4 linked regions of the Homo sapiens genome follow. The protein of the gene in region 3 interacts with the protein of the main gene of each other region in a biochemical or structural test. Each region holds a gene or a part of one and is shown on either strand. Other genes may lie near its edges.

Region 1 (7,033 bases), on a different chromosome or scaffold from region 3:
CTCATTCTGCTCTGGCCTTGAAGGGGACTCTTGACTCGTGGCTTCCTTGAAGCTTGTGTGGAGTTAGCGAGGCCCTTGTGGCCAGGCAGCCTTGGAGTGGAGTGCCACTTCACTCTCCCAGGGATGCTCTGGTCCACTGGTGGAGAGAGCACCGAATGCAGAGTCAATCCTTTGAGTTGCTTGGTCAGAAGAGGGGGCCGCAGGGCTTCTGGTCAGTGGCTCATTGCCTGGCTGCGGGGGTCTTGGGGGCTGTGTACTGTAGCTGGCTTGTTTGCACTGCAGACTGAAAAATACACAAATACTTCACGCTTTTTGTACTCCCACAAGTGCCCTGTACACAGTGCAGCCCCTGGGGCTGGATTAGCAAACCAGGGATTCAGCAGGCAGGCAGACAAAATTGGATATTTGCCTAATAAACACCCTTCTTCCATTGTCCCCCACCCCTGCCCCGGGGGTACTCCACGGGAAAACTTCACTCCACAGATGCCAGCAGTTCCCTTTAAATGGGAGTAGGAGGTTGTCATGTGCACTTTGAAAGCTTGTGTGACCCCCTCACACCCAGCTGGCTTGTTAAAGCCTAGAATCGGAGTCCTACATCCTTGTGTACTCTTTGGGTAGGGCAGCTGGCCTTTTCCTGGGGAAAGTGTGTTTAGCCCAGCTTCCTTTCATCTGCATGGCTCTTGCGGCAGGGAGGTGGAGCAAACCAGCCTTGCTTCTTGGAGGCTGTGGGGAGGAGAAAGGGGTTCTACCTGGGCCAGAGCCTGTTTCCTAGTGGACAAGGGGCAGCCAGGCCAGGTGGACCTCGCTGTGGACAGCTGCAGCTGTTCCCGCTGGGCCAGGGCCCTTTGAAAAGGAACCCGGGGGAGCACTTCCCCCCTTTCTTCTTTTCACTAAGTGTCAGAGGCATGGACAAGTGAAACACGTGAAGAATGCCAAAGAGAGAAACAGTGTTTTCAGATTCCAGAAAATTCAGAGGCAGAATAGGTGATTGTACCAACAACCAGAATGTACAGTGATTTCAGTTGCTCCTGAAATTGCTCCTGCACTTCTAAAGAAATCGGGGAGGAAAAACTGCTCTCTAATTGTTTCCTCAGGCTTGTTTAACAGATTTGAGAAAGGGTCATCCGACATTGATGTTTGAGAGTGTCCTTTGAAAAAGAGTGGCACCTTCAACACTTTTCTGGTTTTCAAATAAACACACAACACCGGATTCAACATTAATCATTTTCTCTGAAATTAATTTGAGGGTTTGCTGTGGAATATCAAGAATTAAAAAAAAAATCATTGATTATTATTTTTAGGTTTAGAGGATGACAAAAGCATCCTTAACCCACAAAACTGTATTTAAAACCTGGGAAAATGCACAGATGATAACGGTATACTTTCTGTGCATTTAATATCTTATTTTCCCCCAATTCTTTCATCAGCACAGTAATTCTCAATAATCCTGTTTGTGTTGTTTCTGGTTTCTTAAAAAACATACACATGGGGGAAAGTAACTCATTTAAGATGTGACCAAAGAGTACTTATTAAACTGTTTTGGGGATTTGGGTTTAAATTGAATAATGTTTTGTGTGTGTGCTTGCACATGTGTGTTGTTTAAAAAAAAAAAAACAGGTTGCTGGGAAGTGTGTTTTAACTGTGAGTGCCGGGTTTCAGCTATTAGCATAAGAAAAAAAGTTTTAGTGCGTTTGCCATTGTCTTGAATGAAGAGTTCAGCAAAGGGAAGGAAAGCCGCAAAAGGGTGATGGTCCATTGAGATTCTTCTGCAGCCCCGAGCTCGTCATCTGCCTCTGAAATCTGTGATCGGATATCACTTTTATCTCGCTTTTCCATTCTCTGGCCTTTTTCACACGTTCACTTTTGTCAAGGTTTATTGATTATGTTTTCTTCTCTACAAATCTGTGGAAAATTTAATGAACCAAAAACAGCAGTGAAATAAAGGGGACTTTTTATTCATTAGCACGGGATTGGGATTGATTCCCTCTTTGGGCAGCCGAGGGCCCCAGGCCTCCTGCAGGCAGCTAGAGGGAGGAGGGAGGGTGGCCCGGCTGCAGGCTGAGGCGGGGACTCCACAGGCCTGTGGCCTCCAGGCTGAGCAGCACGGGCGCAGCCCTGCACTCCTGTCCCAAGTGAACTCTGAAAGCTTGTCCGCGATGGCTGTGCCGGTTGAGCCTGTATGCAACCACGCCGCAGCCCTTACCCGCCATGTCCTCCTGGGTCCTGGCTCAGTGGGCTTGGGGGAGGTGGGGCGGGGGGTGTTGTTTGTATTTCCCAGACTTACAAACCATTTGAGTGCTGGGCCTTCCCTGGGACACAGTTAAGTATCTCCCTTCCTCCAGACCCAGCCCAAACCTGTAATTAAGCAAAGCCCCTGATGTGATTACGCTTTGCTGACTCGGCTGGGTTTGGAGCCATTCCCTCTAGGAAACAGGGTGAACTCTTGCTCTTCCCAGAGGTTTCCTGGGCAGCTTGTGGTGCACCTCTATTGTACACATGTCCGCCTGTCCCCCTCCTTTGGCTCTCTTCCTCTCCCTTCAGCTATCCGTCCGTCCTTTCTGTCTTTTTCTTTCTCCTTCCCCTTTCTCTCTCTTCTGTCCTGCCCCCACCCCCTCTTCTCTCTGGGTCTCTCCTTTCTCTCCCTCTCCGTTCTCTCTCCCCTTCTCCTTTCTTCTCTTTCCCTCCGTTTCCCCCTCCTCCGTTTCCTCCGCCTTCTCTCTCCCTCTCTTTTCTGTCTTTTCTCATCTTTTCCCATCTTTCCCTCCCGTTCCCTCCGCCTCCTCCCCGCCCCCGCCGTCTGGACCTTCCTCTCCCTCCGCGCCGGCTTTTCCGCCACGCGGAGCGCTGGCTGGCGAGGCCGCGTGTCCGAGCGGCGCCGACCGTGCCGCGGCCGGGGGACATTCCGTGCCCCGAGCGCCCCGGGCCCGCGGCTGCGGCCCTCCCACCTGCGCGCCGGCCTGGTTTGCAGCTCCCAAACAATGGCCACATTGTCGCAGCCGCACACCGGCCGCCGCCGGCGAGTGGCGGGAGGCCGGACTCTGCTCGTGGCGAGTCGGGAAGAAAGCCAACGGGCCAGGTCCCCACAGCCGCGCCCGGAGCGCGCGAGCGGCTCCCACCCGGGAAGGGCGCGGGTTCCGAGGGGCGCCCCGGGTCTTCCTCGACCCCGTTTCCCATTGGCCTGCCCTCTTGCCCGCTTCCCCAGGAGGGGCTTCCAGTTGCCTTTACAGCTGGCGAAGTGAATGAGAGCACTCCACGGGAGCCGGGAAGAGAGAGGCCCCGTGACCAAACTTTTGGTGGCGTCTGAAACTTTTTCTGTAAGGCATCTGCAGACAGTAATCACTAAGGCCGCCTTCTGCCCTTGTCCACTCCCGGCGACAGGAAAGGAAGGGCGGTCCTCTCTTCCATTCGTCTTGACCTGTAGGGATTCGAAACCTCTTAGCGCTCAGAAAAAAGATCTTTGAATGCCTGATGTTAAAAGAGCGTCCCTGGGTCCAAGATAGCCCCTTCAGCAGACGCTTAGCAATGCTTCTTTGTGTGCTGGACAATGCAGTAAGTCAGCCAGACTTTTGAGCCACATTTATAAGGAACTGTAAGGGCCGCTCAAGTACACTTGTGCTAAGTTGAATTGATTGAAATTTAATGGCGGTTAGTGGCGATGAATGGTAATGATTTTCCAGCGTATCTTTGGCATACTTGACATTAATAACTGGAGTGTGTGTGTACGCACGCCGAGAGCCCGCCACACACGTGAGGCCGTAGCATTATTCATTTTCCGAGGTGCCAGTCCTTTCTCTCCTCAAATCCTTTTCCATCTCACCATAATTCAGTTGTTAGGATGACTTTAAAAAAAAAGGAAAGAGGGAAAGAGAAAAATCTTTCTCCATTGAGCACGTACATCATGTCAACGTAATTTTGAGCTCATGATTTCTTTTCAATTCCTACATAAATCAGCTTCTAATATATAGAATGTGACGAATTTGTTTTAGCTGCCATCATGAATTAATGTTATGCAAATAGAAGCTGTGCAGGTGAAATGATTTACTTAATAATTTCAACTTCTAATATTTAAACTCATTCATTATGTTGGAGTTAAAAAAAGCAAGTCCATATTTTTAAACCTCAGATGGGGAGATTAGTATGCAAATATTTGCAGTGCAGCAACCCTTGATGACCAGAAAATAGCTCTTAATTTGTTGATTCTCTGGGAATCTGCAGCTCACCATACCAAGTGGCCTAAGGAGCAGGGGAAAGAAGACTTACCAAGTTTTATCTGGGGGAGGACACAAATGCATTTACATAATTCCATCGTGACCATCAATGTACCATATCCAGTGGGACTGAACTCTCTCTGCTTTGGGGACCAAGGAAGGCTTCCCATTTGAATTTGTCTTGAAGAATAACTGTAACTGCCAGGTAGAGAAGGGTAAAGGGCTCTGATGTGCCGCCTCCCCGCTCCCCTTCCTGCTTCTTTGTCCTTTGTCCTTTGCTAGTTAAGACCATCTTAACACTGTAATTCCAGGATTTGGGGAGGCTGAGGTGGGAGGATTGCTGGAGTTCAGGAGTTCGAGGCCAGCCTGGGCAACATAGCGATACCCTGTCTCTACAAAAAAATAAAAATAAAAAAAGAAATCATCTTAAGAGCCAGTCATTAAATACCGGCCTATGAAGGTGACCCTGGTGTAGAAAGTTGGGCCAGAGGACTACCCAGATAACTGTTAGGAAGACTTTCTTATATATACCATCCTTCCCGGCTGTTTCCCTCTGGAAGAAGCTAAGGAAGAGCACAAGAGTGATGGATGGCTGCAATATAAAGATAATTAGCCCGAACCCCTTGGAGTTATCCCCAGGGACTGGGAGACCCAGTCACTCAATAGCTGGGTGACCCTGTGCAAGTTGCTTCGCCTATCTCTGGGAAGGGGGCGGGGCTTGGTAGATGTCATCTCTCAGGTCCTCCCAGCTTCAAAACCCTCTGAGCTAGCACACCCTGCCCACTGGACAGCCATCTCTAAGAGTCAAGACAGCGGGTAGGGTGGGAAGATCAGAGTCTGGAGAAAGGGAAGGTCTTGGGTACCCCCTGGGGAGAGTTGGGTGCCTGTCAAGGAATATGTCCTGCCTCTCCTTGCTGGCCACTCTTCTTAGCCAGCCGCTGTGCTCAGGTACCTCTGGGATGTGGTCACAGGGTCAGTGTAAATGGGAGTGGCCTTGGGGACATTGGTAGAGAGCGGAAGCCTGTGATGGTCTTTTCAGACTTTCCTCGAGGCTGAAGATCAGTGAAGGAAGGGCTGACACATAAATTTGTCTTGGATCTCTGAAGATGATAAGGGTGGAGTTTTGACTTCACTTCTCAAAAAATTGAGGTCGTTGCAGTCTGATGACAGGTTGAAGGCACATCACTCAGACGTTTCTGCAGACAGCTGTGGGTTGTGCTGTCATGATACATTGTGTGTGTCCAGGCAGTGACAGTATATTTAGGGCTGGCCCTCGCTGTCTGTGGAGATCAAGGTGAGGGGACATCTCTGGTGCTCTTGGGCTTGAGAGAATGCATATGTTGCCTTGTTTATGTACTGAAAGAAAAATTGGACTCAGTAGCTACTCTGTTACTTCCATACTTTTCAGGTATGTGAATCAATAGTTGGAACAGGATTGTAGAGTTTGAATGTAATTCAGGTACATTCATCTACCGAAGATGTGGTACATAATATAGTAATTTACATACACAGTATAGTATGTTAGATTACCCTTCCTGCTGTTCAGTGTGAATGAGGGATGTGCGACATGTATATTTATGCTGATAGACATTTATATGGCTAAAACTTTAACTACCAGATTCCTTTAGAATTAGATTTTTGTTCTTCTCCTAAAATGTGCTTGTACCCAAGAACAAGAAATTAAGAGGCACATCTGAGAATAAGGCTGCAAAGGTCTCTAGGTGGGGTTCATGGGCCTCCTGGATGAGATTCAGGTGGGAAGCTTGTTAAATATTGCAGAATCTTAGGTTCCCCAGGGAGAACCCATTGAATGAGAATTCCTGCAGAGTGGGTCCAGGAATCTGCATTTTATCCAGGATTTTTAGGGTGGGGTGATGAGGAATAATGTCTTTTTACTATGATGTCCCTCAGATCTGGGACAGTCCAGGAATGGATTTTCAGCCAATTGCAGCACTTGCAGCTGCCTGGACAGCTGTTGCAGCAAGGAAACTAGCTGAAAACAGAGGTGCTTCTGCTCCAAAACAGCTCTTAGAAGTAGGCTCTAGAGCAGGGTCTCTCTTTCACAGGACAGTAGCTGAGACTATAAGGTGGCTCTGGTGGTTACTTGCTTTTACTGGCCCCCAAGAGAAACAAGAGAGTATATTAAGTTAACATGTTGGTTTATGTGCTGTAGGTTCTGTCCCAAGTGTCCCTGGGATGCCTCCTTTCTTTTTCCATGTAAGGAACTGCAGCGCCATCAGGATGCTTTGTGGCTGAAGTGGGACCAATTTGGCATTGGACAGTTTGAGTAGGTCTTTTGGAAGTTTGACCCACACTTAGGTTTGGTTGAAGGGCCTACCTTGTGGACACCTTTATGGTCCCTAAGAAAAGTAGGAAGGAGACAGATTGTCCAATAGGGGTGAAGTTGCAGAAGAGGATGCTGTGTGGTGGCGTCAGGCCTGGGAGCTGGAAGGAGCCTGCCCTGAGGGTGAGCAGAGCCCTCACTCAAGATTAGGGGCCTAGGAACAGACTTTTCCTTTCACTACTGTCCTGCAGGCCTTGGAGACCTGGGCTCTTCCACACCCGCAGCTGTGACCATGTGGGGTGGCTTCTGGGGCTTTGATTCATACAGTTTTGCACTGCAGACTTCATTTGCTTGATGCTAATGTTACAAGTGCACCTGGGCCAGGACTTCAAGAGTGCATGGAAGAACACACTGGAAACATTTGAAATTGTGATGTGGGTGGGTCCTCATCCACCCTGCAGCTGGTTCACCTGGTGGCCATGTGGTGGGATTTGCTGGTCTGAAGAGGCTCAGGATTCCTTCTGTCCACATTTTTGCAGTT
Region 2 (7,033 bases), on a different chromosome or scaffold from region 3:
CCTGCAGCTTCCAGATGTGCTTGCTCTCCTTGGAGACCTGGCCCACTGTCTCGCCCATGAGGGCAATGAGCATGTTGAGGAGCAGCACAAAGGTGAGGATGATGTAGGTCACCAGCAGGATGATGAAGACCACGGGGTACTTGGTGCTGCTCAGCATCTCCAGGTCGCCCATGCCGATGGTCAGCTTAAACAGGTCCAGGAGGAAGGTGCTGAAGGTCTCGCTGTCACGGCACGAGGGGTAAGTGGGCACTGTGCAGTTGGTCTGGTCCTCATTGCACACCTTCATGTTGGCACACGGGTTCAGGAGGGAGACCAGGGCTGTGGGAGGATAGGGGTGGCACTCACTGAGTGTGAGCACACCCACAGAGAGGTGGAGGGTGTCATTCTCATTTGCTGGAGGAGAAAGCTGAGGCCTAGTGAGCGGAGCACGCTGGCCCACACGCTGACCCATGTCACCCTACACATCAGCCAAGCCACACCAGACCCAGGTCCTCCTGATCCCAAAACCTTTGAAGCCTTTCCATAAACTCTTGCTGATAAGGAAGAGGTTATCTCTCTCTCTCTCTCTTTCTTTCTGAGATGGGGTCTTGCTATGTTGCCCAGGCTGGAGTGCAGTGGCTACTCACAGGCTCAATCCCACTACTGATAAGCGTAGGAGTTTTGACCTGCTCTGTTTCCAACCTGGGACAGTTCACCCCTCCTTACACAACCTGGTGGTTCCCTGCTACCGGGAGGGAAAAGGTTTTCAGGATCTAGTCCAGGGAGGGTCTCAGTTTTTCCCACCAGGGGACATTTGACAATGTCTAGAGACATATTTGGTTGTTACAACTGGGGGTGGGGGTGCTACTGGCATCAGGTGGGTGGAGGCCAGGGGTGCTGCCTGACACCCTACAATGCACAGGATGGTCCCCGCCACGAAGAATGATCTGGTCTCAAATGTCAATAGTGTTGGGAAATCCTAATGCGGCCTACCATTCTTAGAGGTCTTGGGGGCTCTGGAATGCCCCTATTCGCAGGGGTAGACTCTCTCTCTGACAGTTTCCCACTCCACCCCAACCCAGAGAGGAAAAGTGGGGGCTGAAACCAGGCATCAGTCCTGACTGTCCCCAAAGCCGTGTTCTCTAAGGGGCCTCTCCTGCTCTAGACATCTCAAACTCATCATGGTTCTCCTTTCCTACTAAGCCCAGGTGGAGCTTCAGATTCCTTCTCAACACAGTTTGGCAGCAACAACCTGTCCCTAAACCAGCCAGGGAGGGGAGCATGAAGAAGACTCAGTCCCATCAGTCAGTGGGGCACAGAATGTCATACTGCCTGCAACCAGGGATTAGAGTATGCAGATTTCAACTCATATGCTAATGTTCTTCAGTTGTATAGTACCTGGTGAAACACTGTGTTGAGAAGGATTCTGAGACCTTGTCTGGACTCACCGGAAAAACTGTTCTGTGATCCATTAGTGATGTCTGCTATGGACACCAAAGTGTGGGAACAGAAGCATGTGTGTCCTGTTTATGTCATGTCAGCCTCAGAATTGAGATCTAGTGCATCCTATAAGGAGAAGACCTGCAACCAAGCTGACTGCTAAGCTGCTACTCTAACCCTTGTTTCTCCTTAGTTTCAATAACTAGGACTGCAGTAGGGCTAGATCCCTGACCTGAATCCCAAACTGTTGTTGAACCCTTGACACTGTCTAGTTTGTCCAGTGTGATCCCTGGGAAGGGAAAGCTGTACCCTGTCCCTATCTCCCCAGTGAAAACTACAATTCCACTTCCCACCAATAATCTACCTAGAGACTTGGCCACTATCGTGGGTTAAAATATCACCCTTGTCAGATTCCTGTGCCAGGCTCGTCCCCAGATGAACCTGCTCAGATGTGTATGTGTCCAGGTCTAACCTGAGTTGGCCATTCCCCTTTGGATGCTGGGCATTGATGTCAGATTACCCACACCTCGGGGATCAGCCCAAGGACTTGGTCAGTTTCTCCAGCCCTGGTCCCTGGTCCTTCTCCCATGACCCATGCCACTGAGGTCCCAGAATGCTTCTTAGTGGCATCATGACATCACGAAGAAGGTATATCAAGGGAGCTGATGTTGGGCTTTAAGAAAATACCTGGGCTGCTAGTTTAATTATTAAATTTTATCCTTCCATGTATCCATCCTCCTTCAATGTGGCTTTACAGCTTCTCCCACTAAGAAGTGGAGTCTAGGCCAGGTGCAGTGGCTCGCGCCTATAATCCTGCACTTTGGGAGGCTGAGGCAGGAGGACTGCTTGAGCCCAGGAGTTCAAGACCAGCCTGGGCAACATAGCAAGACCCTGCCTCCACCAAAAAAAAAAAATGGAAAAAAAGAAGTGGCGTCTATTTCCCCATCCCTTGAATCGAGGCTGGCCTTGTGACTTGCTTTGGCCAACAGAGTAAGGCAGCAGTGATGCCATGCCAGGAGGTGTCCTTGAACACTTCTGCTCATGTTCTTGGAACCCTAAGGCCACCATGTGGACAAGCCCAAGCTAGCTGTCCAGAAATGAGTGACCATGTGGAAGATAGATAGCAAACCCCCTCTAACCAAGTCCATACTAGCTAGACCAGTCAGCCAGCAGCCAGCCTGCCAGCTGACCACAGGCACAAGAGCCTGTAGGGATCAGCCAAACCTGGCCCAGGGCAGCACAGCCACCCAGCTGACCCATTGACTCATAAGCAATAGTAAGTTGGCCTGGTACAGTGGCTCACGCCTGTAATCCCAGCACTTTGGGAGGCCAAGGTGGGTGGATCACTTGGGGTCAGGAGTTCGAGACCAGCCTGGCCAACATAGTGAAACCCCATCTCTACCAAAAATATAAAACTTAGCCATGCGTGGTGGCACACGCCTGTAATCCCAGCTATTCGAGAGGCTGAGGCAAGAGAATCGCTTGAACCCAGGAGGCAGAGATTGCAGTGAGCCAAGAGCACCACTGCCCTCCAGCCTTGGTGACAGAGTGAGACCTTGCCACAAAAAAAATAATAATAATAAGTGGGTGCTATTTTAAGCCCCACTTTAGGTGGCTTCCTTTGTAGCAATAGCTAATACTCCAGTTTTGCCATTCACCAGCTTTTTTTTTTTTTTTTTTTTTGAGACAGAGTCTCGCTGTGTTGCCCAGGCTGGAGTGCAGTGGTGCCATCTTGGCTTACTGCAACCTCCACCCCCTGGGTTCAAGCGATTCTTGTGCCTCAGCCTCCCGAGTAGCTGGGTCTATAGTTGCGCGCCACCATGCCTGTCTAATTTTTGTATTTTTTGGTAGAGACGGGGTTTTGCCATGTTGGCCAGGCTGGTCTCAAACTCCTGACCTCAAGTGATCTACCCGCCTCAGCCTCCTGAAGTGCTGGGATTACAGATGTGAGCCACTGCGCCCGGCCACCATTCACTGGCTTTTGAACTTGTGCTAGTTATTTAACCCTCCTAAGCCTCAGTTTCCTTTTCTATAATAGGGGATAATAAAGGCACTTAGCTTACAGGCTTGTTGGGAGGCAAGGATGGAAACGTACTTAGTCTGGTGCCTGGCACACAAATAAGAACTCAGTGGCCAGGCGCGTTGGCTCACACCTGTAATCCCACCATTTTGGGAGGCCAAGGAGGGTGGATCACCTGAGGTCAGGAGTTCAAGACCAGCATGGCCAACATGGTGAAACCCCATCTCTACTAAAAATACAAAAAAAAAAAAATTAAAAAATAGTGGGGCGTGGTGGCAGGAGCCCGTAATCCCAACTACGTGGGAGGCTGAGGCAGAATTACTTGAACCTGGGAGGTGGAGGTTACAGTGAGCTGAGATTGTGCCATTGCACTCCAGCCCGGGCAACAGGAGCAAAACTCCACCTCAAAAAAAAAAAAAAAAAAAAAAGAACTCAGCAAGGCTGCTATTGTCCCCTATACATCATGGCTACTGTTCCCGTCCTTGCACCACCCCTGCCAGGACCACCTGAGCACCCAGAGCTCACCTGAAGCGTAGCCGATCATGAAGAGCAAGTAGACGAGCAGGAATCGGAAAAGGTCCTTGAAGAGAATCTAAAGACCCCAGCGGGATTATGGAGGCAAAGAGGAGACACATGGTTTCTCACTTTCCCCATTCCTCCATCTCCACCCTGGTCCCACCCCAGTGTCCAGACCATGCCTCCTGCCCCCACGGTACCCAGCATCCTCAGGTCTGCAGGTGCATAAGTGTGCATGTGGTGTGTGTGTGACTCCCTCCAGGAACACACGAGTCCAGAGGGTCCTCCCAGCCCGTACCTTCTGGATCATGATGCTATAGGTCCCCGTCAGCTTCAGCCCACGGGTGAAGTAAAGGGCATTCATCCAGCCCAGGACCAGGGCAAAGACCATCACGGCCAGGTAGGCCTCGATCCCTGCCAGGTAGAGGGCTGCTGAGACGATCACCAGGACAGAGTAGATGAAGCTGCAGTGCAGCAGAGACCACAAGAGAGGCCAGAGGGGAGAGGGGACAATGAGGCTCTGGAGGGGAAGACACGCCTCCAAGCCCTCCAGGGTATCAGGACTTCCCAATGCCTTCTAGACCCCCAGAAAAGAAACAAAGTGGATTAGCAGGGTTCCCCAGCATTCTGTTAACAAGAACATTCAATTAGCTGGCAATTAATCCTGAGGTCCCACAGGATCCTGAAGTGATGCCCCTTGGAATTGCTAAAGAAAGATTTAGTGGTGTTCAGTGGAGATTTTGTGGCTAAGTGAATTTCATCATTCTCCAACTCTAAGGGAAATGTGAAAGAGGTAACACACACTCAGTAACTCTCTCATTCTCTGTCCCAGGCAGACATCATTAATCAATCCCAACTCTTTCCCACTAAACACAGACACAGGTGCAAAATTCTTAACATGGCACTTCAGGCAGACATTAGCAATCATTCACCAGCATAAGAGGTTAAAATTATTTCTATCCATGTTGTATATGATAACTCCCTAGCAATCAGAATTTTTCTTGAACCAGAAGACCCTATTGTTTGTGGCTTTGTCCTGACTTTGGGTTAGAGCTGCCCAGGTTGGGTGCATTCATTTCTAACAGAATCACCTCTCTCCTGAATCTGGACGACCTAGCAGCCCAAACCCACCTTCCTCACCCAGAAGCTGCCGGCCCAGGGACCTCTACTCACTAGAGCAGCTGGAAGGAGCCATCAATGAAGAGAGAATTCACTCCAGGGCATTTCTTCATGAACAAGTCTTTGATCTGGAAGACAGGAGGGGGCACGTGAAAGGGGTGGGGCCAGCAGGAGAGGAGAGGAGGAGAGAGGAGACAGAGAAAGGGATAGAAGAGAGGGAGGCAGAGGCTGGTACAGAGAAAAGACAAAGGACTCTTTCCTGTTAGAAAAGGAGAAAAAAGCAGAGATGGAGAACGTGGGATTGGAGGAGGTAGAAGAGAAATGGGAAAATAAAAGGAGGAAGGAAAGGAGAAGGACCATTTGGAGGAGAGAGAAGAGAAAAAGAGGGAGAGAAAAGAGGTGCAGGAAGAGAAGAGGAGGGCAGGCAGGGTGGGGGGCACGGGGGCCAGGCACTTACGTTGGTGAAGAAGAACAGGACCCCAGTGAAGAGCGTAATGACCTCGCCAGCCAGCCGCAGGTAGTCCACCGTGGTGCGGTAAGGGTACGGCGGCTGGGGAGCAGCAAGGGCACACAGGTCGTCACCCAGCCCCTCCAACATCTGGCCCCCAATCCAGATGTTCCCCCAGGCCCGAAACATCGGCATCCCATGGAGCCTCCTCCTTCACTCTCTTCCTCCTGAGTCTTCCTCCTCCCAGCTCAGGGCCACCCGTGGATGCTGGAGGGCGCCTCCCCAACCTGTTCCTAAACCTTCTCCGGGTCCCCCTACAGGGGACCCAGAAGGATGAGGTTGTGCCCCAGTCCTGCATGGCTCAGCCCAGTGCCTGCCCCAGCCCCTGCCCGGTCCCCGGGCACTCACTGTGCCCTCCAGCGGCTGGTAGTAGGCGGTGAGAGTGAAGATGACCATGGCACACAGGTAGGAGACCACGTTGATGTAGAAGGAGACGGCCCCGAACTTGCGCCACTTGTCCCGCAGCAGTTCATTGATGGGCTCCACAGCCAGCATCTCGTGGCGGTTCTAAGAGAGGCAGGGTGGTCGGGGGCTGCCTTCCTGAGATGGGTGGGGGGTCCAGGCAGGCTGCCTCGGGTGTGCCTTCCCCCACCCTCCACCCGGACAGCGCTTTCTCTTTCCATCCATTCCTCAGCTGCATTCACGGATTCATGAATGGATTCAGCTGCCCAATTCTGCCTCAATGTACCTTTCCACCCTATTCTAGCATCACAGAACTCGGAACTGGAAAGTCCCTTAAAAGACATTTATTTTCAGGCCGGCCGCAGTGGCTCATGCCTGTAATCCTAGCACTTTGGGAGGCCAAGACAGGCGGATCACCTAAGGTCAGCAGTTCAAGATCAGCCTGGCCAATGTGGTGAAACCCTGTCTCCACTAAAAACACAACAATTAGCCGGGCGTGGTGGTGCACACCTGTAATCCCAGCTACTCCTAAGGCTGAGGCAGGAGAATCACTTGAACCTGGGAGGCGGAGATTGCAGTGAGCCTAGATCGCACTACTGCACTCCAGCCTGGGCAACAAGAGTGAGACTCCATCTCAAAAAAGAAAAAAAGACATTTATTCTCATGGTTCCCAAACTCCAATCTGTGGATAGTACCAAGCTGCTGGCCGCAAAATAATTTATGTAACTTGCTGCAAGTATAAATCCTGGCCTCCGCTCTCAGAAATTCTGATTCAGAGAGAAAGATTGAGAAATTTTGCCCAAAGATGATAAATGATTGACTCACCACAATTCTCCAATTCTGAACCCAGGGCAGACATCAATAATTGAGCCCTGCACAATTGTATTCATACAGTTCCCTGGGTAGACACTACTAATCAATCAGTTTGCACCTGAGATGCTAAACCTCCTGCCACCACTAATTTAAATCAAGATGGTCACTAATTCAAAAAATGAGGGAAATGAGGTCTTGCAAGGAAGCCAAGCTCACAGACCAGTAAGCCACAGGGC
Region 3 (7,000 bases):
TGGATTCTTACAGTGCTGGAGGCTGGAAGCTCCAGATCAAGGTGTCAGCAGGGCCATGCTCCCTCTGAAGGCGCTAGGGAAGGTTCTGTTCCAGGCCTCCCTCCAAGCTTCTGGTAGCTCCTTGGCTTGTGGTTGCAGAACTTTGATCTTCACGTGGTGTTCTTCCTGTATGCCGGTCTGTGTCCTAATTTCCTCTTTTTATAAGGACACCAGTCGTATTGAATTAGAGGCCCACCCTACTCCAGTATGACCTCATCTCAGCTAATTACATCTGCAATGACCCTATTTCCAAATAAGATCCCATTCTAAGGTACCAAGGATTAGGTATTCAACATATGAATTTTGGTGGGGGGACACAGTTCAACCCATAACACTCCGTATACATTTCTGGAGCATGGCTGTGTGCCAGGCACTGAGGAGCCAGCACTGACAGGCAGACAAAGTCCCTGCCCCCATGGAATTGGCATTCCAGTGGAGGGAGCCGGGCAGCATGCGGGTAAACAGGCGAGCCTATGAGATCATGCCATGAAGAAATAAAGGTGAGAGGGATGGGGTGGGGCATGGGAAGGCCTCTCTGAGGAGGTGATGCCACCTGCATCTTGGGAAAGGCAGAGGAAGAATCCAGGTCAAAGGAGCAGCCGTGCAAAGGCCCTGGGGTGAGAGTGTGTCTTGTGAAGGAACACAGAGAGGGCCACATGGGGTCAGACATGGGAGGTCGTTGTCAAAAGATTGAGTCTTGGCCTAAGTGAGGGAGTCCACTGGAGGGCATGGGGGAAGGGCGTGCCCTTGCTGGTTAAGCAGCTTGTATTGGCTGCTTGTGGAGAATGGGCTGGGATGGGGGCAGGAGTGGAAACCAGGAGGTCCTTGGGCAGATGTTGGTGCAGCCTCCCTGGGGGGAGATGATGGCAGCTTGGACCAATGGGGAGGTCGGGGAGAGAGGAGTGGAGAAGCACTTCTGGGTCTTGGCATCAGCTCTGCTTGGATGGGGAGCTGGAGAAGCCTGTCGGGGGTGGGGGGCGAGGTGGGCAGGAGAGCAGTCAGGGACACGCTAATTCAGTAATGTTCTCAGACTTCTGAGCAGGAGTGGCTGTGGAGTCAGAGCTCTAGGGAGAGGTCAGGCCCGGAGAGGAAGATCTGAGGGCCTGTTGGGAGGATGCTGTATGAGTCTAGGCATAAGATAAGAGGGAAGGCCCGGGCCCAGGTCAGGGTCTCTGCAAAGCCAGCTAATAACTGACCCGGGGGGGAAGCCTCAGTGCAGGGTCTTGTCACTTTTCTTAGTGGAGCAGCAGAGAAGGGACATGTAGCAGGCTGAACAATGGCCCCAATGATGTCCACGTCCTAATCCCCACAACCTGTGACTATGTTACCGTGGCGAGAGGGACTTGGCAGGTGGGATTCCGTTAAGGATACTGAGTTATCCAGGTAGGCGCGATGACGTAATCACAAGTGTCCTTATGAGAGCAAGGCAGAGTGATGGGGAGGGTGGGGGCCGGTGTGTAAGCCGGGAAACCCGGGAGCCTCTAGAAACGGAAGACAAGAAAATAGATTCTCCTCTAGAGCCCACAGAAGGAACACCACTCTGTCGCCATCTTGCTTTAGGCCAGCAACACTCCTTTCGGACTTGTGGCCTCCAGCACTGTCAGATCGCACATTTGTGTTGTTTTGAGACACTAAGTTTGTGCTCCTTTGTTACAGCAGCCACAGGAAACTCAGGGCACTCGGCTGCCCCCAAATCCATGGCTTCCAAACGATTATCATCGCTCACCTCATCAATACAAAAACTCTGAGGCCAGGCACTCATACCTGTAATCCCAGCATTTTGGGAGGCCAAGGTGGGAGGATTGCTTGAGCCCAGGAGTTTGAGACCAGCCTGGGCAACACAGTGAGATCCCATCTCAGAAAAAAAAAAAAAAGAAAAAGAAAACAATGTTGAGCACTGCATGCATACATATGTCACATATCATACCCCTGAGTACACATCTGAAGGGATATTTCCTTCCAGCCCCTGGAGCAGTCCATAGTGCTGGGCCCATGGCTGCGGGCTGCTTGAGGAGTCCTTAGGTAATGTGGGCAGGTTTCAGGTACATACAGAGGCTTGGGAGGGAAAACCAGAAGACAGTGGGGACTCGTACTTTCCCTAAATTTGGAGGTGGGGCTCGGTACATGGATTAGGGATGGGGTATCAGGGGCAACCTCTCCAGCGTCATGGTGGGAGTTTTATACCCTGGCTCTTTAATCTCAGCTGGCGTTCCAGGGATGTAGGAGGAAGGACCAGCAGACAGCTGTAGTGCTGGCTCCCACCAAAGACTCAAAGCCAGTCTGAACACAAAGCCCACGTCCTTGCGCTTTCTGCTAGTTCCCAGGGTTACTGGGGAAAAGCAGTGATTGAAGAACATCCTTTTCTCACTTTGAAATATATTCCTCCACGCAAGCTGCTAAATCTGTTTCCAAGCCACAGTGCTATCTGACTTAATTAATTAGCATCTATTTGCAAACCAGCAATTAAAGGGCTAAAGTCCTTTTAGGTGGCCTAATTAGGTCTGACAGGACATTGTCAGATGTGGCCTGTCCTTTCTCCATAACATCCTAGAAATTTTCAGCCATGGTTTTAAAAGCAATCACGAATGAGAGTCAGCCAGGTCAAGCATCATGCCTGATTTATGGGCTAGTAAATTGAGGGTGTGCCTGGGGTTCTTCCGGGAGCTTGAGTCTCTGGTCTTGCCAGGGGTGTGGCCAGAGCCCTGCTAGTGGGGAGTGGCAGGGGACCAACTTCGGCGGACTTGGGTCATTCTGGAGGTGCCAGGTGGGGACTTGAAGGGCCAAAGCGAGAATCCCCTTGTCCCCAGGTCCCCCAATAATTACATCTGGGACCACTGGTGCGCTGGAGCTAGCCCAAGGTTCCATCACCTGCAGATGGAGGTAGCCCACCTGCGAGACATTTGTAAGCAGGGGTAGCTCTTAAATAGTGTGGAGTAAAGGGAAAAAAATATCCAGAATATCTATAGAATAGTATTATGCAAACTTAAAATGCATGCATACTTACAAGTCTGTATTTTTTAAAAAGACAAATGCATTTCATTTATAAGAGGTACCTAGAGTAGTCAAATTCATTAGAGACAGAAAAGTAGAAAGGTGGTCGCCAGAGACTGGGGGCAAGGGGATGGGGAGTTAGTGTTTAATGAGTAGAGATTCATCATAAGTACACGGAAGAAAAAAAATGGGTATGGGAGTTTCAGTTTGGGATGATTAAAAGCTTTGGGATGGGTGGGGGCGAGGGTTGCACTGTTGTGTGAATGTACTTAAGGCCACTGAACTGTGTACTTAAAAGTGGTTAAAATAATAAATTTCAGGTTATGTATGTTTTACCATAATTATAATAAAAAACAAATATATCTAGAAAGACATGCCATAGAGACTACCCATAGGGGCATGGGGGCATGGAGGAATGGAAATAGGGATCAGGGACAAAGGAGAACAAAACCTGAAAAAATTCCTTCCTGAGGCTGATGCCCACAGTGTGTCCTGAAGGTGTGGTGAGCTCAGCTCTTAGCAGATGGGAGGGCTCCGAACTGCTATGTAGTATTTTCTTCTTTTTGGAAATGAAGTCTGTTGCCCAGGCTGGAGTGCAGTGGTGCGGTCACGGCTCACTGCAACCTCTGCTGCCTGGGTTCAAGTGAGTCTCCTGCCTTGGCCTCCCAAGTAGCTGGGACTACAGGTGCCCACCACCACACCCGGCTCATTTTTGTATTTTTAGTGGAGACGGAGTTTTGCCATGTTGGCCAGGATGGTCTTGAACTCCTGACCTCGTGATCCGCCCGCCTCAGCCTCCCAAAGTGCTAGGATTACAGAGGTGAGCCACCGAGCCCGGCCCTATGTAATATTTTTCCTTAACTTGGCTCTTTTAAAGAGCTTAAGTAGATTTGTCAAAAATGCAAATTTTATGTTAATAGAGCAAGTGGAAACCTAACTTGACTTTCCTGGCATAGGTGCCACCCCCGTTCCTAATCCACCTTTAAATATTCCTCATTTTAACTGTTGATGGCAGTTTTCTGCATTGAAGTACTTATTTCTGCATGTTGAAGATTAATTCCTTAAATCCATTCCACTCCTCCATTGATTACCTCCTCAGACACCCTGCAGAGGAAATGTAGCTGATTTTGTGTCCTCCTTCTGCCATTTTGGTTTTGGTTTCGGGCAGTCCAAGCACAAGCAGTGTTAACTATAGTTGTTCTACTTTTTGATCTATGATTTAAAAAGACCCAAGCCATCATTTTAAGTCAGCTGTCTGTATAAACAACAAGGCTTTTATACAGTATAAACAAATTGTTAGATAAATAACGGGACTTTGGAATGAAGTCAGAGGGTGCGTGAGTGGGAACGAATTGGGCAGAGCAGGTGCGCTTGTTTTTCAGTATTACCTGTTTGTCCTCTTACCATCCACACAAGGCAGCAGAGGGAGAGCTTTCATTCTGAAATGTATAGAATCCTATGAATATTTGCTGTATTAGCACGCAGTATGAGGGCCAAATTAATTGTACAACTAGCAATTGTTATTATGCTAGTAATGTCAATCTTTCATGATTTAGAATAGACCAAAACATGTTAACTTTTTATAAATTTGCCTTTGAAGTCAATAAATCTGGCTTGGTTTAAGTTAAAAGAAAAAACACAAATGAAAATGGAATGATTTTAAGCTGTAAGTCAGAGGCCTGCCCACTCTTGAGAAGAGAGACTAGCAAAGTAGAAAGGAGTTCAAGGTATGCTAGAGACTGTCTTTCTCCTTGATGCGATCAGAAGGCTTGAAGGAAGTGGAACGGCAAATCACTTTCCTTCCAGATATCACTGATGTATTTTACCACCGTGTCTGGATATTGCCTGTAAATCGTGTCCTGTTCCACCTGTGATGAGCACGTCTTGGGCTAGAAAATGCTGTTGTGGACACTGAGCCCCCAGGATCAGGAGCTGGATGGAGAACTTTCCTGGGTGAGGCCTCAGGGGCAGGAGGTGGGGACCTGGCCTGTTGATAAGAAGGCCCTAGGCTGCCCTGTGTGGAATGTTCCTTTGTGTTTAGCAGCCTTGGTCCCTCAAGACCTCTGTGCTCTGCCTGCCTAGCAGTTTGGCATGGTAGAATTTCCATGGGCTTCAGAGTCAGATAGATCTGCCTAAAATTACTTCTTAGCACAGGGCACCTGACCTTGTCAGTAGAATGGGTATAATACCCATCTCAGGAGGTGGTCTTGAGGATTAAGTGAGATAATGGGGACGTGTCAGCCTCTCTCCCTGAGCCTAGCACATAGTATTTGCACAATAATGGCACCTGTTATCACTTCAGACCTCTTGGGCCTAGGGTAGCAGATTGCCAGATCATCTTCCATGTGTTGACTTTCAGCCTCACGCTCGCAGGATGGCTGCTGTGGACATTGCATCTGCATTGACGGTGGGAAGGAGTAGAACGTTCCATCTCTGTTCCTTTTATCCAAAACCAAAAGCTTCCCCAGAAGTCCCCAGCAGACTTTTCATGGGTCCAGCTGGCCAACCCCAGCTACCTGGCTGCCCATAGCTGCAAGGGAGGCTAGGAAAATGGGAAAGAGGTAGGATTGTTGTGACCTACCCAGTCATTTTTCATCATGTTGTGGGATTCCATTAGTGAGGAGGAAATGGGTCACAGCTGATGAGACAGAAGCCCTTGGCACCTGCCCCCAAGTGTTGTCTGATTCCTCCTGATGGCTTTCCTGTTGCTTTGCCAGCCCACGCTATGATGTCAGGGCAGAAGGAAGGAAGGAGCCTGGGGCTGGATTAATTTCGCAAAGAAGGGTCGGTACAGAGTGGAAGCTTCTGGAAGCAAAATCCAGAATCCCTTCTTCCCACCCCCCAAGTGTTTGCATGCCCTGTTTCTTCTTTCCTCTTTTGGAAACATTCTTCATCCAGTTCTTTTTTTTTTCTTTTCTTTTTTTTTTTTTTTTTTTTTGAGACAGAGTCTCGCTCTGTCACCCAGGCTGGAGTGCAGTGGTGCAATCTTGGCTCACTACAACCTCTGCCTCCCCGGTTTAAGAAATTCTCTACCTCAGCCTCCTGAGTAGCTGGGATTACGGGCATGTGCCACCATGCCCAGCTAATTTTTTTGTATTTTTAGTAGAGACGAGGTTTCGCCATCTTGGACAGGCTGGTCTTGAACTCCCAACCTCGTGATCCACCTGCCTTGGCCTCCCAAAGTGCTGGTATTACAAGCATGAGCCACCGTGCCTGGCCCATCCAGTTCTTTAGGACAATGAATTCATCCTCTATTCTTAAGCTATCTTCTGGGAAGTTGCCCTGAATCCCCCATGTCGGGGGGAGATCATGTTTGGTGCCACCAGAAAGGGCGAAACAGAATAAAGTGTAAGTTCAAGGGAGAGCACAAGCCTGACTCAGATGAGGTGGGGAGATCAGGGAGGCTTCATGGAGGAGGTAGCTTTTATTCATTTGTTTGAAAAATATCTCACCCCCTTCTCCGTGCCAGGCCCTGGGTGAATGGAAGATGGCAGACAGTATGACAAGCTGTCATTCCAGGCCCCCCAAAAACACCCCTGCCCAGTCCCAGCTTCTCTCCTGACCTGATACTGGACACAGGATCAGGGCCAGATGGAAGTTTGCCATCTGTCCCATGTGGAGACAGAAGCAACAAAAGTCATTTAGGCCTCATTATCTAATCTCATGGCCCAGCTTTCTGCTTCTGTGGGCTGAGCTTTGGAAAAAGCTAATCATCAAAAATCCGGATGTATTTCTTCAGGTGGAGAAAGGGGTTTGTAGCATCAGAGGGCTCCTCTCTGAGCAGGATGGTATTGGGTTGAGATCATTATCTAGTCAGTGATGAGGCTGAGAGGCTACCAGGGAAGGCCACTGTGGCCGGTGTGACATGAAAAAGGCCAGTTACAACTGGGTGTCAACAATGATGGTGATAAATGAATGGAAAACTAGATTACTATTTACAAAAATCCCAATTAACAGTGACCATCCACAG
Region 4 (7,033 bases), on a different chromosome or scaffold from region 3:
TGGGCTTCCGGTGACATAATGCTCCCCTTTTGGCTCAGGGTGGCTCCTTGGCCTCACTAGCAAAGACCGCTCAGAGCTGAATACGGTGTGCCCTGGAGAGCTGCACAAGGATTAAGGAAAAAGCTGAGTGTAACTAAAGCTCTTTGGGGTAATGGAAAAATTACCTTAATAACCAGGTATCCAGGTGACAGCTGCTCTAGAGATTCCACTGTTATGTCTCTTTAAACCTGTGATTTACTAACATTCCACTATTCTATACAAGAACCTGGTCCCTCCCCTTTTGGGAGCGGGGAAGGGACACCAAATTAAACATACCTAAAAGACCTGGGAGGATATATACTGAAATTTTAATAGGACGTCATTGGGGTGGTAGGATTACAGAAAAAAAAAAATCCTCTTTATTAACAAATTTACTGATATAAATATAAAAATACTTTTATAGTAAGAAATTATGTGTACCTCTTTTGGAAATATTTATATGCATCCTATAAAATTGTTGGGAGGAAGTAAATGAAATGTGAAGACACCAATTCCATTAATCAATTGCTGCTCTATGCACTTCAAGAATAATCTGCTTTTAAAAGGTGGCAGAGAAAAGACGCATGTCTCAAGTTCTGTACACTGGGTTGTGATTAAAAAAAAAAAACGATACAAGTCTTAGGCCCTACATCACAAATGTACTGCAGAACAGTTTCAACGGCTTAAGAAGGTCAACCTTAATACATTCAGAACCTCAAAGCAAAAAAAAAAAAAAAAAAGTCCACAGGATAATCCCATGCCTCAAACCTGTTAGTTACATGCCCAAATCCAGCAAACTAGTTTGTTCTCAAGCTTTACAGTAAAAGCTTTTGACAATGTTCTGGTACAGAAGGGCTGCCTCCAAGTCCACGAGATGCCATTAGCAGATAAAATTATATTGGCCTCAAACACAAACCCTATTTCAACTATCTCAAATTAAATCTGATGCCTATAAGCTCTAATTTTTTGCCAATAAGTACAAAAATGACAAATGAAAATTTCTATAGTGGATTTACGCATTAGCAGTCAAAAAAAGCTTGCTTGTCAGCAAGTTCATCCAGACTCCAGATCTCATGTGTCCTTCATGCTCTCTACCCAGCCAGAGACCTCATATCTCATGCCCAGGTCTTTCCTCAGGCTCTGACCTGAAGCCTCCCTTGCAGGGAGGGCCAGAGCTCTCCTGCCTTCTCCAAAATCCTCCACAAGCCTCTTCCCAGCACAAACTGCCCATCCCACCAACCACGTACCTAGAGTTGTATGTAAAACACTCACTGGACTCCCCTGGCTCCAGGAGAGCAGCCCAGCCTTGGTTTCTCAGGGCGGACTTCTGGGAAAGACTCCTCTCCCTCATGCCAGCTGCCTGGACAGTGCCTGCCAGGACATGTGGCCCCACCCATGCCAGTCTGACTCACTATTGCATCCTCCTCCTAGGAAGGCACAGACATGCAGAGCCAACCTCCAGCCAGCAGTGGAAGCCTGGCGTATCCACTGATAGCAGCACACACCATGCCCAGGTCCAGGAGCCTTATTCTTGAGCCCGAGCCCCTGCAGTAAGATCTTCCTCAGAGCCATGTCTCCTCTGTGAGAAAGGAGACACCATCTCTAAGAGGCCTTAGTCTGGAGTGACAGGTTGGAACAGGCACAATCACAGCTCAGCTCCAAGTGCCCTATTCTCCCTTTCCTTTCTCATCTCAGACAGCTCCTGGCTTTTTATATTAGTTTCCTTTGTGTCAGACACAATTTTTTGGCCATTCTTCAGAAACCAGGAGACAAAAATCATAAAAAATACCCAACACTCCTCCCTCCAACTTTTTTTTTTTCTTTTTTTTTTTTTTCAGACAGGGTTTCACTCTGTCACCCAGGCTGGAGTGCAGTGGTGTGATTATATTATATTATAGCTCACTGCACCCTCAAACGATCCTCCAGCCTCAGCATCCCAAGTAGCTGGGACTACAGGCACGAACCACACCCAACTCCCATGCTCCACTTCTTAGGGCCAGGACTGTTGTTGGGTTGTGCTGGGAAAGATTCACGCTTCACTCCACCAATTCTTCCACAAAGGACCAAATCATTCTGCCCTAATAAAATAGCCTGGCCCGTGAGTCTGCATCTGCCTAAGTCATTTTTCCTTTGTACCAATTATGCTCCGATACCAACCTCATCACATAGATCAACTATAAAATGATGGCACCTGATGCTCACTTTCTCCCTCCAACGTTGCCAGTAGGTACCCAAGATTGTGTTCCTTCCTGTGACGTCAGTTTGCTACCTACACCTCCAAGCCATCATGAAGGCGTTTCGATCCACAACTCTTCCGAACACCTGCATCCGTTAGAAAGTCTGCATCATGATACGCTGGCATTCAGGTCAGCCTGCTCTCTAGTTCTCTTCCTCAACAATGGAAATGGAGTTTCTAAGATTTGCCCTAATCAAACTAGGCCAGCAACATGATCAAAATGGGTGACGGGCCAGCAGAACCTAGTAAGGTCTGGAATAGGCACTGTTCATCTTCATCTATAGTTAAGGGTAATGACAATAATGTATTTGCATATGGGTGCAGGATACAGAGGATAAGATATCTTCTAGCTAAGAGACCTGGGTCTTAAGCCCACACTTTAACCCCAGGAGGCCCCACAGCAGAAAGCAGTATGGTGTTACCAGGCTACACAGAACAAAATGAGCCCACTTGTAGGTTCTAGTAAAATTCCCTGGCTTTAAAAAAAAAAAAAAAATCTTGGCTCTTTTATTTCTTCGGGGCTGAAAGTAAATGACTTGTCAACAGGAACCTAAGGTCCTATTTCCAACTAGAGTGTGGAATAGGGAAGAGCAGCTGATGCTAAATGGGCCTACTTCCCTCAAAGACCACTCAACTTCAGGTGAAGAAGCCCTAAGTCAGAGACCCCTCAATGTCCTCAGATGCCGAGGATTTCCTGGTTCCATCCCAGCTGCTCAGTGCAGAGAACTGGTTTCAGCCTGAAGGAGGTGGTTTGGGGGAAGCATTAGTTGTCCTGGGACATGGTGCCTCCTTACTAGGATTAAAAGTAGGGCGGTGTTTCTGGGTATGATATCCACACTCTAAAATCAGCAAGGGACCTGGGACCCTGATTTAGGGTCCTCTTAAGTGCAACTAAGGTGGGTGATGGCCTCAGCAAAGTGAGGCACTGGCTCAACATTTACTGGAAGGGCTGCCCTGCATTCTAGTCGGGGGGATAAAGGAGGAAAGGCAGTGCCAACTCTCCAAGAGCACTGAACTAGTTACTATGACTGGTCTTCCTACGGCAGCCTTTATAGGTTTGCTTCTATGTTACGAATTAAAGAAAAAAAAGTTTTAACATCTGCCTCTCTACCACCCAGAACTGACCATTAACACTGAGCCATGGCTGGCTGTGTTGGCTCACGCCTGTAATCCCAACAGTTTGAAAGGCTGAGGCGGGCAGATCACTTGAGGCTAAGAGTTCGAGACCAGCCTGGCTAATATGGTGAAACACCATCACTACTAAACATACAAAAATTAGCCAGGCGCGCACCTGTAATCCCAGCTACTTGGGTGGCTGAGACACAGAATTGCTTGAATCCAGGAAGTGGAGGCTGCAGTGAACGGAGATCGCACCACTGCCCTCCAGCCCGGGCAACAGAGTGAAAAACTCTGTCTCAGAAAAAAAGGAAAAAAAAAAAAACACAAATAAAGGCTGAGCTGTATTTTCTTTAATTTCTTTTTTCTTTTTTTTTTTTTTTTTGAGATGGAGTCTCGCTCTGTTGCCCAGGCTGGAGTGCACTGGCGCGATCTCAGCTCACTGCAAGCTCCACCTCCCAGGTTCAGGCCATTCTCCTGCCTCAGCCTCCTGAGTAGCTGGGACTACAGGCGCCCGCCACCAGGCCCGGCTAATTTTTTTTTTTTTTTTTTTTTGTATTTTTAGTACAGACGGGGTTTCACCGTGTTAGCCAGGATGGTCTCAATCTCCTGACCTCGTGATCCGCCCACCTCAGCTTCCCAAAGTGCTGGGATTACAGGCATGAGCCACTGTGCCCGGCCCTCTTTACTTTCTAAAAACAAAAACAAGAATTTTAATTTTATACAGTTCATTTTTTCTCCATCCCCAAGCTCCTCCAACCCTTTCCACCTCCATCTTAAACTTTTTTTTCTATTTTATTTATTTAAATAGAGATGGGAATCTTGCGATGTTGCCCAGGCTGGTCTCGACCTCCTGGCCTCAAGTGATCCTCCTGCATCAGCCTCTCAAAGTGCTGGGATTACAGGTGTGAGCCACTGCTCCCAGCCACATCATGCATTTTGACACCCAATCACTGTCATGAACTCTATATCCTTCCAGTTCACTGAAGTCTATGTACAGTGTATCTATGTCTATACTGAACCCTATAATATTGTGGTTTTCTTAATGCCCTAAGTGGTATACTGTATATATCACTGAGTAACTTGTTTTTCACTCAGCAGCACATTTAAGATCCATCCAGTGGGTATATGGATCTAGCTAATTCATTTAAGCTGTTACACTAGTCCACTGTACAACAGACCATTTTATTTATGGACTGTCTTACTGGTGGCCACTCTCCCTCCCCGTTAAACTAAGTTTCTTCTATTAATCAATACTCTTGTAGTACATGTCTCCCTGTACTGTGTGAGTTTCTATATATCCAGAAATTGAAGTCTTAGGTCATGGAGTATGTTTATTTCTATTTTTACTAAATAAGGCTGAATTGCTCTCCAAAGTGGCTATATCAATGAACGCTGAGTTGCTGCCTTCCACACCTTTTTCCACACTTGGTACTGCCAGACTTTTTAAATGTTTGCCCATCGGTGACATTTGTTTTTCTGCTCATCTAATGTTAATAACCAAAGAGGGATACCCAGATAGTTTCAACGTTTACAACATCTCTATTTCCCTGCTTAACTCAATCAAATCTCCTCTGAAATGGCATGGTGGACACAGTGTGTCTTATGTGCCCTGACTGACTCCACTGATGGGCAGTTCTTTTTCGTTCATGGCCAAGGGAGATATCAGTTGTTTAAAATTGAAGAAACATGGCCAGGCGCGGTGGCTGATGCCTGTAATCCCAGCACTTTGGGAGGCCAAGACAGGTGGATCACGAGGTCAGCAGACTGAGACCATCCTGGCTAACACAGTGAAACCCCGTCTCTACTAAAAAATACAAAAAAAATCAGCCAGGCGTGGTTGCGGTTGCCTGTAGTCCCAGCTACTCAGGAGGCTGAGGCAGGAGAATGGCATGAACCCGGGAGGCGGAGCTTGCAGTGAGCTGAGATTGCACCACTGCACTCCAGCCTGGGTCATGGTGCGAGACTCCGTCTCAAAAAAATAAAATAAAATAAAATAAAATAAAAAATGAAGAAACATTATCTGCAAGTAAACTGAAGATGTTTGGAAGGGATAGGACTCCCTTCAGAGAATCTTGACTGCAGTATTCAGCCAGCAGCTGTGCTGGTCCACAGTGTGAAATGCTAGGACTGGCAACCTCACTGCCCTTGAATAACTGGTCTTGGCATCTCTCCCACTGCAGCCCCAGCCTGCTTCCAAGACTGCTTGCTGGCATGAGGAAAGAGGCTTAGGGCTCCCCAGGAGCTTTGTCTATGGACAGAAGTGGGGGAGGTGAGTCTCAGAGGCCACCGAAGGTACTGCAGCCGGCTTGTTCCCTCCTACGTGCAGACAAGCACAAACCACTGCAGGGGCGGGGCTTCACCGCACTGCATGGTAGGGGCCCTAAAGCACCCAACTCCTGAGCTGAGCAGTCATACCAAGAGGCAGGAAGGCCCAGCAGATGCTGCACATCACCCTCCACCACTCACCCAGGCTCACCTTCCCCCAACAGCTTCTTTAACAAAGTCCCAAGTATTTAAATTACTCAATTATCCAGTCTGCCCCTTGGTAAAAAAATGCAAGCTCCCCGCAAGTATGGTGGTATCAAAAATGGTCTTCATATATCTGGTTGTTTAGCTCTATTCCCATCTGTATCAGAACTGATGCTTAAAGGGACAACTTAAAATCCTTAAGACCTCATACCAAATAAACCAATCTCACGAAGACCCTTGAAGATGCAATAAAACTCTGCTCACAGGGTCAACGCATTCTTGTGTTATACCAGCTAATTGAGATTTGACTGTGGACTTTTGGAGTGATTCAGAAAGAAGGGTAATGTCAAATGAGTCATTTTCCTCTACTCCGGTCTCAGTCTTAGCTCTTGGCCAAGATAACACATCCTGACTTGCCTTCATAAAAGCTGAAGCAGGCCAGGTGCAGTGGCTCACGCCCGTAATCCCGGCACTTTGGGAGGCCGAGGCCGGTGGATCACCTAAGTCAGGAGTTCAAGACCAGCCTGGCCAACATGGTGAAACCCCATCTCTACTAAAAATACAAAAATATTAGCTGGGCGTGGTGCAAGTGCCTGTAATTCCAGCTACTTCGGGAGGCTGAGGCAGGAGAATTGCTTGAACCCAGGAGGTGGAGGTTGCAGTGAGCCGAGATCACACCATTGCACTCCAGACTGGGCAACAAGAGCAAAACTATCTCAAAAAAAAAAAAAAAAAAAAAAAAAAAAAACAAAAAACTGAAGCAAAATAAACTAAAACCCAAGTAAAGTGAGTTTGTAATGTAAGTGCTGCATTTTCTTCTACCTTCCTGCCCACGGCCGTTTCCTCATTTCTTCCATTGCCTCAATATTAAGAAATAAACAGCTTTAGGAAATAAAATGGTTTTTCCTGTGACCCCACATCAGTGTCACAACATTCAAGGCACAGAAGCAACTCCCATAAAGTGCTAGCTGTTTAGAGTCACCGCCACCAAATTTGCTAAGTCACTGGGGGTACGGTTCTTAAAGAGCTAATGATGCTCTTTGCTAAAATATGAATACAACATTATTTCTAATGCAATGCTTAAAATGAAAGCAGTTGTGCTAGACAGGAGACCAACATCCATACATTTTGGCTCAAGTCAGTAACTGAGAAATGAGTTCAAGAACCTTCTTTAAGTCATCATTAATCAAG

What was found.
Region 1: of the proteins of OTUB2 (region 3) and GLI2, one has a biochemical effect on the other in vitro, tested with the Homo sapiens proteins (one study listed by BioGRID).
Region 2: the proteins of OTUB2 (region 3) and TRPV4 interact in a test that uses a peptide from one of them, tested with the Homo sapiens proteins (one study listed by BioGRID).
Region 4: the proteins of OTUB2 (region 3) and PKM form a complex in vitro, tested with the Homo sapiens proteins (one study listed by BioGRID).

Annotation. Positions count from the first base shown.
Region 1 is NC_000002.12:120,738,837-120,745,869, forward strand, and holds part of GLI2 (zinc finger protein GLI2), read left to right. Parts: intron 1-7,033. UniProt on the Homo sapiens protein: Functions as a transcription regulator in the hedgehog (Hh) pathway. Functions as a transcriptional activator. May also function as transcriptional repressor. Requires STK36 for full transcriptional activator activity.
Region 2 is NC_000012.12:109,788,399-109,795,431, forward strand, and holds part of TRPV4 (transient receptor potential cation channel subfamily V member 4), read right to left. Parts: intron 6,090-7,033; coding exon 5,931-6,089; intron 5,625-5,930; coding exon 5,532-5,624; intron 5,203-5,531; coding exon 5,129-5,202; intron 4,420-5,128; coding exon 4,254-4,419; intron 4,032-4,253; coding exon 3,965-4,031; intron 345-3,964; coding exon of another isoform or gene 319-344; coding exon 2-318; intron 1-1. UniProt on the Homo sapiens protein: Non-selective calcium permeant cation channel involved in osmotic sensitivity and mechanosensitivity. Activation by exposure to hypotonicity within the physiological range exhibits an outward rectification.
Region 3 is NC_000014.9:94,029,340-94,036,339, forward strand, and holds part of OTUB2 (ubiquitin thioesterase OTUB2), read left to right. Parts: intron 1-7,000. UniProt on the Homo sapiens protein: Hydrolase that can remove conjugated ubiquitin from proteins in vitro and may therefore play an important regulatory role at the level of protein turnover by preventing degradation.
Region 4 is NC_000015.10:72,221,185-72,228,217, forward strand, and holds part of PKM (pyruvate kinase PKM), read right to left. Parts: intron 1,388-7,033; exon of another isoform or gene 1,370-1,387; coding exon of another isoform or gene 1,266-1,369; intron 101-1,265; coding exon of another isoform or gene 1-100. UniProt on the Homo sapiens protein: Catalyzes the final rate-limiting step of glycolysis by mediating the transfer of a phosphoryl group from phosphoenolpyruvate (PEP) to ADP, generating ATP.